2 linked regions of the Homo sapiens genome follow. The protein of the gene in region 2 purifies or fractionates together with the protein of the main gene of each other region. This does not show direct contact. Each region holds a gene or a part of one and is shown on either strand. Other genes may lie near its edges. The genes, in order: CYRIB and POU2F2.

The links.
Region 1: the proteins of POU2F2 (region 2) and CYRIB purify together in Homo sapiens (affinity purification with mass spectrometry; one large-scale study listed by BioGRID and IntAct). This does not show direct contact.

The regions. Positions count from the first base shown.
Region 1 is NC_000008.11:129,838,896-129,842,447, forward strand, and holds the end of CYRIB (CYFIP-related Rac1 interactor B), read right to left. Parts: intron 3,311-3,552; coding exon 3,247-3,310; 3' UTR 698-3,246; downstream 1-697. UniProt on the Homo sapiens protein: Negatively regulates RAC1 signaling and RAC1-driven cytoskeletal remodeling. Regulates chemotaxis, cell migration and epithelial polarization by controlling the polarity, plasticity, duration and extent of protrusions.
Region 2 is NC_000019.10:42,087,315-42,091,132, reverse strand, and holds part of POU2F2 (POU domain, class 2, transcription factor 2), read left to right. Parts: 3' UTR 1-3,818. UniProt on the Homo sapiens protein: Transcription factor that specifically binds to the octamer motif (5'-ATTTGCAT-3'). Regulates IL6 expression in B cells with POU2AF1. Regulates transcription in a number of tissues in addition to activating immunoglobulin gene expression.

The sequences.
Region 1 (3,552 bases), on a different chromosome or scaffold from region 2:
GCGTCCCCACCCAAATCTCATCTTGAATTCCCACGTGTTGTGGGAGGGACCCAGTTGGAAGTAACTGAATAATGAGGGCAGGTCTTTCCCGTGCTGTTCTCATGACAGTAAGTGTCATGAGATCTGATGGTTATTTTAAGGGGGACTTTTCCTGCAAAAGCTCTCCTCTCATCTGCCACCAAGTGAGATGTGCCTTTCACCTTCTCCCATGATTGTGAGGCCTCCCCAGCCACATGGAACTGTAAGTCAATTAAACCTCTCTTTCATAAATTGCCCAGTATTGGGGTATTTATTAGTAGTGTGCAAATGGACTAATACACTGGCTAAGTCCATGCCTACCCCCCATAATACTTCACTCCAAGGACAGACATGAGAACTACAGATAGAGTTGGCAGAGAAGATGCCTGCTTGCTCTCTTTGGCTATCTGACTGGCAAGTACTAGCTCTGAGGTTGAATCATCTTTTGGCAGCAGAGCTGTCTCCTTTGATCACACTGCAGCCCTCAGCTTCAATCACACTAGGTTCTCAGATAAACCTACTCTTGGATCTAGTGGAAGGAGAGGAAAATTCTTTCTGGAAAGGGCCAGATAGTAAATATATTTTAGCTTTTGAGGGCCATATGGTCTTTGTCACAACTCAATTCTGCTGCTGTCATGCAAAAGTCTCGATAAATAATGTGTCAACAAATGAGTGAGGCTTAGGTTCCAATAAAATTTTATTTATGAACACTAAAATTTGAATTTCATATGCTTTTCTCATGCCACAAAATATTATTCTTTTGATTGTATTCAACCTTTTTAAAAACCATTTTTAGCTCACAAGCTGTACAAAAACAGACGGTGAGTAAATTGGCCCACAGACCGGTTTGCTAGCCCCTGGGCTTAAGAGATCTGTCCACTTACTCCTCAACATGCAGAGTGTGAACTGTGTGAACTGCATAGGCCACAGCAATCTTACTGCATCCATTCCCGCTGCATCATTATTTTTGATTTGTATTCATTCAGTCCACCGAAGCATTCACTTGGCACCTCTCCAAATCTGGGTACTGTGCAAGATCCTTCCTTGGGACACTGAAGGAAAATCAGACACGGCCCTTCTCTCAAGTTCGCAGACTCTCCGGTATCCAGATACTACGGCTCTCATAGTATCAGAAAACACAGCCACAAGCGCAGGTAAGTATCAGAGGTGTTTTACGAGATACATGTATCAGATTCTTAAGGCTGCTGTACCAAAATACCACAAACTGCATGGCTTAAAACAACAGAAATTTATTCCCTCACAATCCTGGAGGCCAGATGTCTGAAATCAAGATATTGGTAGGGTTGGTTCCTTCTCGAGACTCTGAGGGAGAATCTGTGACATGCCTGTTTTCCTAGCTTCTAGTGACTTCCTCCAATTCTTAGGGTTCTTTGGCTCATAGATGCATTGCTCTAATCTCTGCCTCCATCTTCCCATGGCCTTCAGCTCTGTGTGTCTATTTCCCCTTCTTTTCTAAGAGCTAGTCATTGAATTTAGGGCCCACCCTACTACAGGTTGATCTCATTTCCAGGTCCTTGATTTCATCTGCAAAAACTTTTTCCAAATAATGTCACACGTGGAGATTCCCAGTGAATGTATCTCCTGGGGGCCACTATTCAGCCTATTACACTATTCTTAGAAGATGCCTAGAAGGATATGGCCAATGTTATCCAGAAGGCTTCATGAAGGAGGTAATAGAAGCTAACCCTTCAAAGATGAAAGTTGGCGTTCATTAGAGGGTCACAAGGGGAGGAAGGGAATGTCAGGTTCAGGGACCAGCCAGACCAGAGCTAAGGAAGTGACATCACATGGAACAATTTGTGAACAGCAAGCAGTAGGGCCTGGCTGCAGGACAGGGTGTGAAGTGGGGGAGCAGTGATCAGGAGGGCCAGAGAGATCAGCAGGGATGTGATCTTGAGAAGCTGTGTGTGCCATGATCTGGCCCTATTAATCCAGAAGGGTCTGATGGAAGCCTCTGTGATTCTCTTCCATGGTTAAACATTTTAATTGTATTATACCTCGGATATTCCTAAATATTTAAAACACTGGCATGGTTGAACTAGACAACCTTTAAGTAGTTTGTTCCAACCATGAGATTTAGATTTCATGATTTAGGTTTTATGATCTTAAACTGAAACCTGTTAGTTTTCTACCACTAGTGAGATCATGGCCTCTGCTTTTCTCCTGGGAAGTCCCTCTTATAATCACTCTCTTCCCATGATTAAAGGGCTACTCTGCCTTCATGTTGCTACCCGCTCCCCTGGAAATGGAGAATCAAGCAAGGATGCGGTTTTCCTTCCATTACTACATCCATACAAGAGTAAATCAAGAATAAAAGTCCAGTTAATGAAAAGATCACTGGTCTTAATATACTTAGCAAAATTTTAAAGGCAATTAAAAGTATATACATAGACAATGATCAAAATTCTAATGAAAAGACCCGGCTCTCCCCTAAAAGAAGAAAAAATCATGTAATGTATATATGCATTCCATAAAAACATACATGGGGAAAACTTCAGAAGCCTAAAAACAAAACATCAGTAAACCAAGCCACACTTAGAAAAATGAAAGCTGATTTTTATTTTATCATCAACAGCCATTCTTTAGACATGAACATGCATACGTAATATTCTACGCACACATCACAGCTTTTAACGTTAGTTAATAAAGGTTAAACACACAACATACATCCTTACAAAAAAAGTCAAAATGCAAACTTAAAACTTTAAACAAAAGTATTACTAATTTAAAAAAAGTTTGTGTTGGGTACCATTTGTACAACACAGTTAATTTAAACATTTTCATTTTGGTTGCACATGAAAAAGGCGGCAGTAGAAAATAAAGTCATTGAGGGTTTTTAAATAGCAGAATAGGCAGTTTTGCCATGCAGGAGAAGCAATATTAAATATTAGTTTCAAAAAAAATCCACATTTAAAAATATTTAGTTCAAGTCACAGAATTTTTCTCAGTAGAGACCCCAATGCAATGCATAATTAGCTGCCTTAGATGGCCCGTTTGAAAGGATGATATCCCTTCAGAGTGTAACTTTACTGATTTTGGCACAGAAAAGAAGTCTTAAGAACATGATTAAAAAAGAGGGAAGAGGAACAGAGGAAAGAAATAAAAGCAAGAATAAATGAGATAGTAATTGCAATCACTAAAAAACTGCATTCTCAGTCATTGCAGAATACTGTCTTCTGTCTACAGCAGGTGCTTATTCCAGAATTGTTATTGCAGCATGGATTTAATTTGCTTGGAGGTAGTCTCATCATTCAAATGTTTTGTTGTGTACCTAAAAAAAGAAAAGAAAAAAGATCAATTTTAGGAACTTAAAAAATAATCAGCATCGGGTTCTCTAATTATGACAGGATGGAGAATTGGTCTCAGCAAAACTCACAAAATTATGGCTTCTCATTGTAGCTTTAACCCTGTTCAGGTTCTGCACAGCCTGTCATCCTCACCCCCTTTCTAACTGAATAGCCAGTAGCTATTTAGCAGCTATTTAACTTAGTTACAACTACACTGCTGAAATGA
Region 2 (3,818 bases):
AGACCAAAAAAACAACCAACCAAAAAAAAAAAAAAAAAGGAAAGAAACTAACCAACAAAAGAGAAAACCAAAAATAATCACAACAGAAACCAGCTGCCCCAAAGGAACCAGAGGTGAAAAACAAACAAAAAAAAACCAAAAACAAACCAAAAAAAAAAAAAACCCACAAAATCAAACAAACCAAAAAACCAGTCGCGAGCCAGACCTCAGCGTGCTCACCCTCACTGCTACGACGCCAAATAAAAACCCCAGCCAGGGGCGGAGAAGCCTCCAGCAGGTCAGACCTCATGCCACCGAGCCCTGGCTGTGGGACCAACCCCCAACCCTGCCTCCCCCGTGGGGGCTACAGAAGGAAAAAGAGAAGATGCCAGCTTCCTAATCCCAGCCCCCAGCCCTGGGCCAGCGAAGACAGGGCACAGCCTGGGCAGATGGGCTGGGGCTTAGCACCACCCACCAAATGTTCTTTTCCAGAAGGTGAAAGAGAAAGGGCCTGAACAACCTTACACCAAATATTCAGTAGCTTCATCCAAAGGATGTACAGAATTTTTAGCATTGTGCTCAACAGAATGTGTCCCTACCATGTGTCCCCTTCTCCCCTGGCCCCCAGCTCTCCCCACCTGGGCAGGGGGTCTTGCTTTAACCTCCTCCCTCCCCCCAGCAGGGGAGAGTTCAAGGGAAGGCCTGCGGACAACTTTTCATCCCCTGTTCCTCCCTCTTTTCCCCTTTGAAGGGTGGGCTAGGCCATTTTGCCAAGTTCTAGCTCTCACAAGTCCCTCCTCAACCCTGTCACCCTCCTCTGCTCTGGAACTGACTCCCTCCCCAGCCTATGGGAAGGTGGAAATTTCAGGCAAGAGGGGATGAAGACATTCAGTTGAGGGCATTCAGTTGTCTTTTTCCATCCTGTCTGTTTCCCTGAAAAAAAAAAAAATTCATATTCCAGTGCCTATCCGTGGGATCCTTCACGTTCTTTGACATTAACCAGAAACCAAAAAGAGAACTCACCTCGCTTTTCCCACCCTGTGCCCCTCTGGTACTGGCGAATGCCTCTCCCTCCCCCCACATGCACGCACGCACACACCCCAGTGGTGGGGTTCCTCGAGATGGCATCCCCATCAGGGTCCATGTGGTGGGGACAGTGCCACAGCCTGTGGTCCCCATCTGAGAGGGCGCGGTGGTGGCCACCACTCCCACAAGACCTCCACAACTCTTGGCTGGACCCTGTGTTTGACCAGCCCCGGACACGTCTCCACTGACGACGGACAGAGGAGAGACACCACTGGGAGCCACCCTGCCCTCCTGCTATTGTGGAGGCCAACAAAGTTTTGAACCGAAAACCAAAAAAACAGAAACAAACAAACAATAAATTTAAACTAGAAAAAAAATTTATATATATATATAAACATATATATATATATATATATAAAAGGGAAAGAAGATGAGGACTCTTCAAGAATAAGATGGAACCGCGAGGCGGAGCCAAGCCCCTGCACCGGTGGTCCAGGCCCTTGTTCCCCAAGGCGGATGGAAGGACGGATGCTTCTTTCTCTTCACAAATACCTCATGGACGTTGTCTTTGGGAAAGCCGGAGGGGGCGGCTGGGGCAGGGCCTGTCCCTCGGCCAGGGCAGATGGAAGCGGGTGGGCGGGGCTGAGAGAGGGTATCAGGGACAGGGGTGAAGAGCCCCAAACTCCCCTCCCAAATCAACTGAAAAAGCTTTAAAAAAAGACAGGAAAAAAAGGAGTAAGAAAGCAAAAAGAACAGATGAAGGAAAACTTAACAACTTTTGGGTGGTTTGATTCCTCCTTTGATTTCTTTTTCGGTTCTCTTTTGTCTGACCTCTCTCCTCCCCTCCTTCCTCTCTCCTCCCCTCCTTCCTCTCTCCTCTCCTCCTTCCTGTCTCCTCTCTCTCCCTTTGCTCTCCTCTCTTCTCTCTCAATCTTGTTCTTTCTGTGTCTCTCCTCAAACCAAAGTGTTGCAGTGAAGGACACGAGCCATTGAAATCAGGGTGGGGCCTGACAGCCGTAGTGTGGCCCCTGCCCCTTGTTGGGCAGGAGCAGAGAGAGAGGAGAGCCCTGAGACCGCAGGGCTTTGGCCTGGGCAGCTTCCACTTTCTGCCGGACACTCTGAGGAGAGGCAGATGGAGCTCCAGGCCTCAGCGTTCTCTTTTTTCCTTGTCTCCCTTCTCCCACCCGGGAAATGAAACTGTTGGGCTGGGCGACGGAGGCAGCAGAGACTCGGCCATTGCAGGGGCCTCTGGGTGCCTTGTCCGGGCAGTGGTGAAGTAGCCGCCCCTCCCACCCCGGCACGATGGGGCCTGGCACCTCGTCTACCCAACCTCACCGGAATGTAAGCATCTCCGCTGAACGACTCCCTGCCCTTACCCTACCTCTGAGTTTGTCCATGTTTATTTCCTGAAGAGAGAAGGGACTGGCAAGAGGGCTTGGGCCCCAGCCCAAGGGTGGAGAGGGGGCCAAGGGCTCCTGACCAAATAGGAAGGACATTTGAGCAGAGCAAAATGAAAGGAATTACAACCAAAAACCCCCTCCGAGAAGACAGGCAGCATGGAAGGCATGGTGGAGATGACTCAAACAAAAACTATGATTCTAGACCAAAAAGGAAAAAAAAAAAAAAAAAAGGAAAGAAAATCCAGGACTCACCACCACCCACTTCATCCTGCTTCCTCCCCATCAAGTCCCACCACCTGGGACCTCTCCCCACCCCAGTATGTGGGAGTGGGGTAAAGAGGAGAGGAGGAGCAGGGGGCAGGGATGGGGCAGATGCCCTGATGTTGGTGGAGGGACCCCTGTGCAGCCGGGGGTGCTGGGGACCCTCCCCATCCAACCCTCACACCTAGGAAAAGAAAAACAAGAAAAAAAAATTCCTGGGAGGGGGAAAAATAACCAAATCCCAAGCTTTAACTACAGCTGTGAAACCAAATATTGGGAAGGGGGTAGGAGGGAGGGAGGGGCAGGTGAGCCCCAGGTCTCCCCCTGGGCCCCCCTCCCCTGAGGACTCGAGATAAGGCACCAAATACCTCATAGAACTTTAATGTTAAAAAAAGGAAACCAAATATCGTTGGCTGGGGGCCAGCCAGGGCAAGGGGCTGGGGGGCTGGAGGGAGCCAGGGTTGGGAAGGTGATGGGGGAATTCATGCCCCCCACCCCCATCTGCCCCTTACACTCTGGTCCCCCGTCTCGACTCCGGGAAACAAAACTATCTCATCGTTTTTATTTTGTGGTCTGTACAGAGCCTGTGTCCGTGTGTCTGTGTATGAGCGAGAGAGTTGGAGGGCTGGGGAGCTTTATGTGGGGGATGGGGAGGGCAACCCCAGGCTAGGCTATGGGCTAGGTTAGATGTCCGAGGTTGGGGGCCAAGGGCCTGGGCTAGAAAGAGAGGAGAGATGAGTGGGTTGGAGCAGTGGGGAGCCCTCTGAATTTCTCTTCTCCCCAACCCTGACCTCCTACTTAAGGGAGGGACAGAGACTGGGTCTACCCTAATGGTGGGCCTTTTCATTGTGCCAAAAAAAAAAAAAAAAAAATTGATGCCAGTAACTAAACCACCTCTCTCTGTTCTCTTCTGGGGGGTGGGGTGGGTGTGTGTGTGGGGGTGGGTAGGGATGGGGAACCCAAGCCCCAGTAGGAGTTGGGGCTGAGATCAGGAGGAGGGGAAGGATATGAGTTTTCCATCCATCTCCCTGGAGAAGGCCATGACGGGCTCTCCAAGCCCTGGGGAGATCTGGCGAGGGACTAGCCAAGTCAGGGTGACCTCTTGACCTGACTAGTTTTTCTAACCCACATGAACACCAGGGTGCCTCTCTC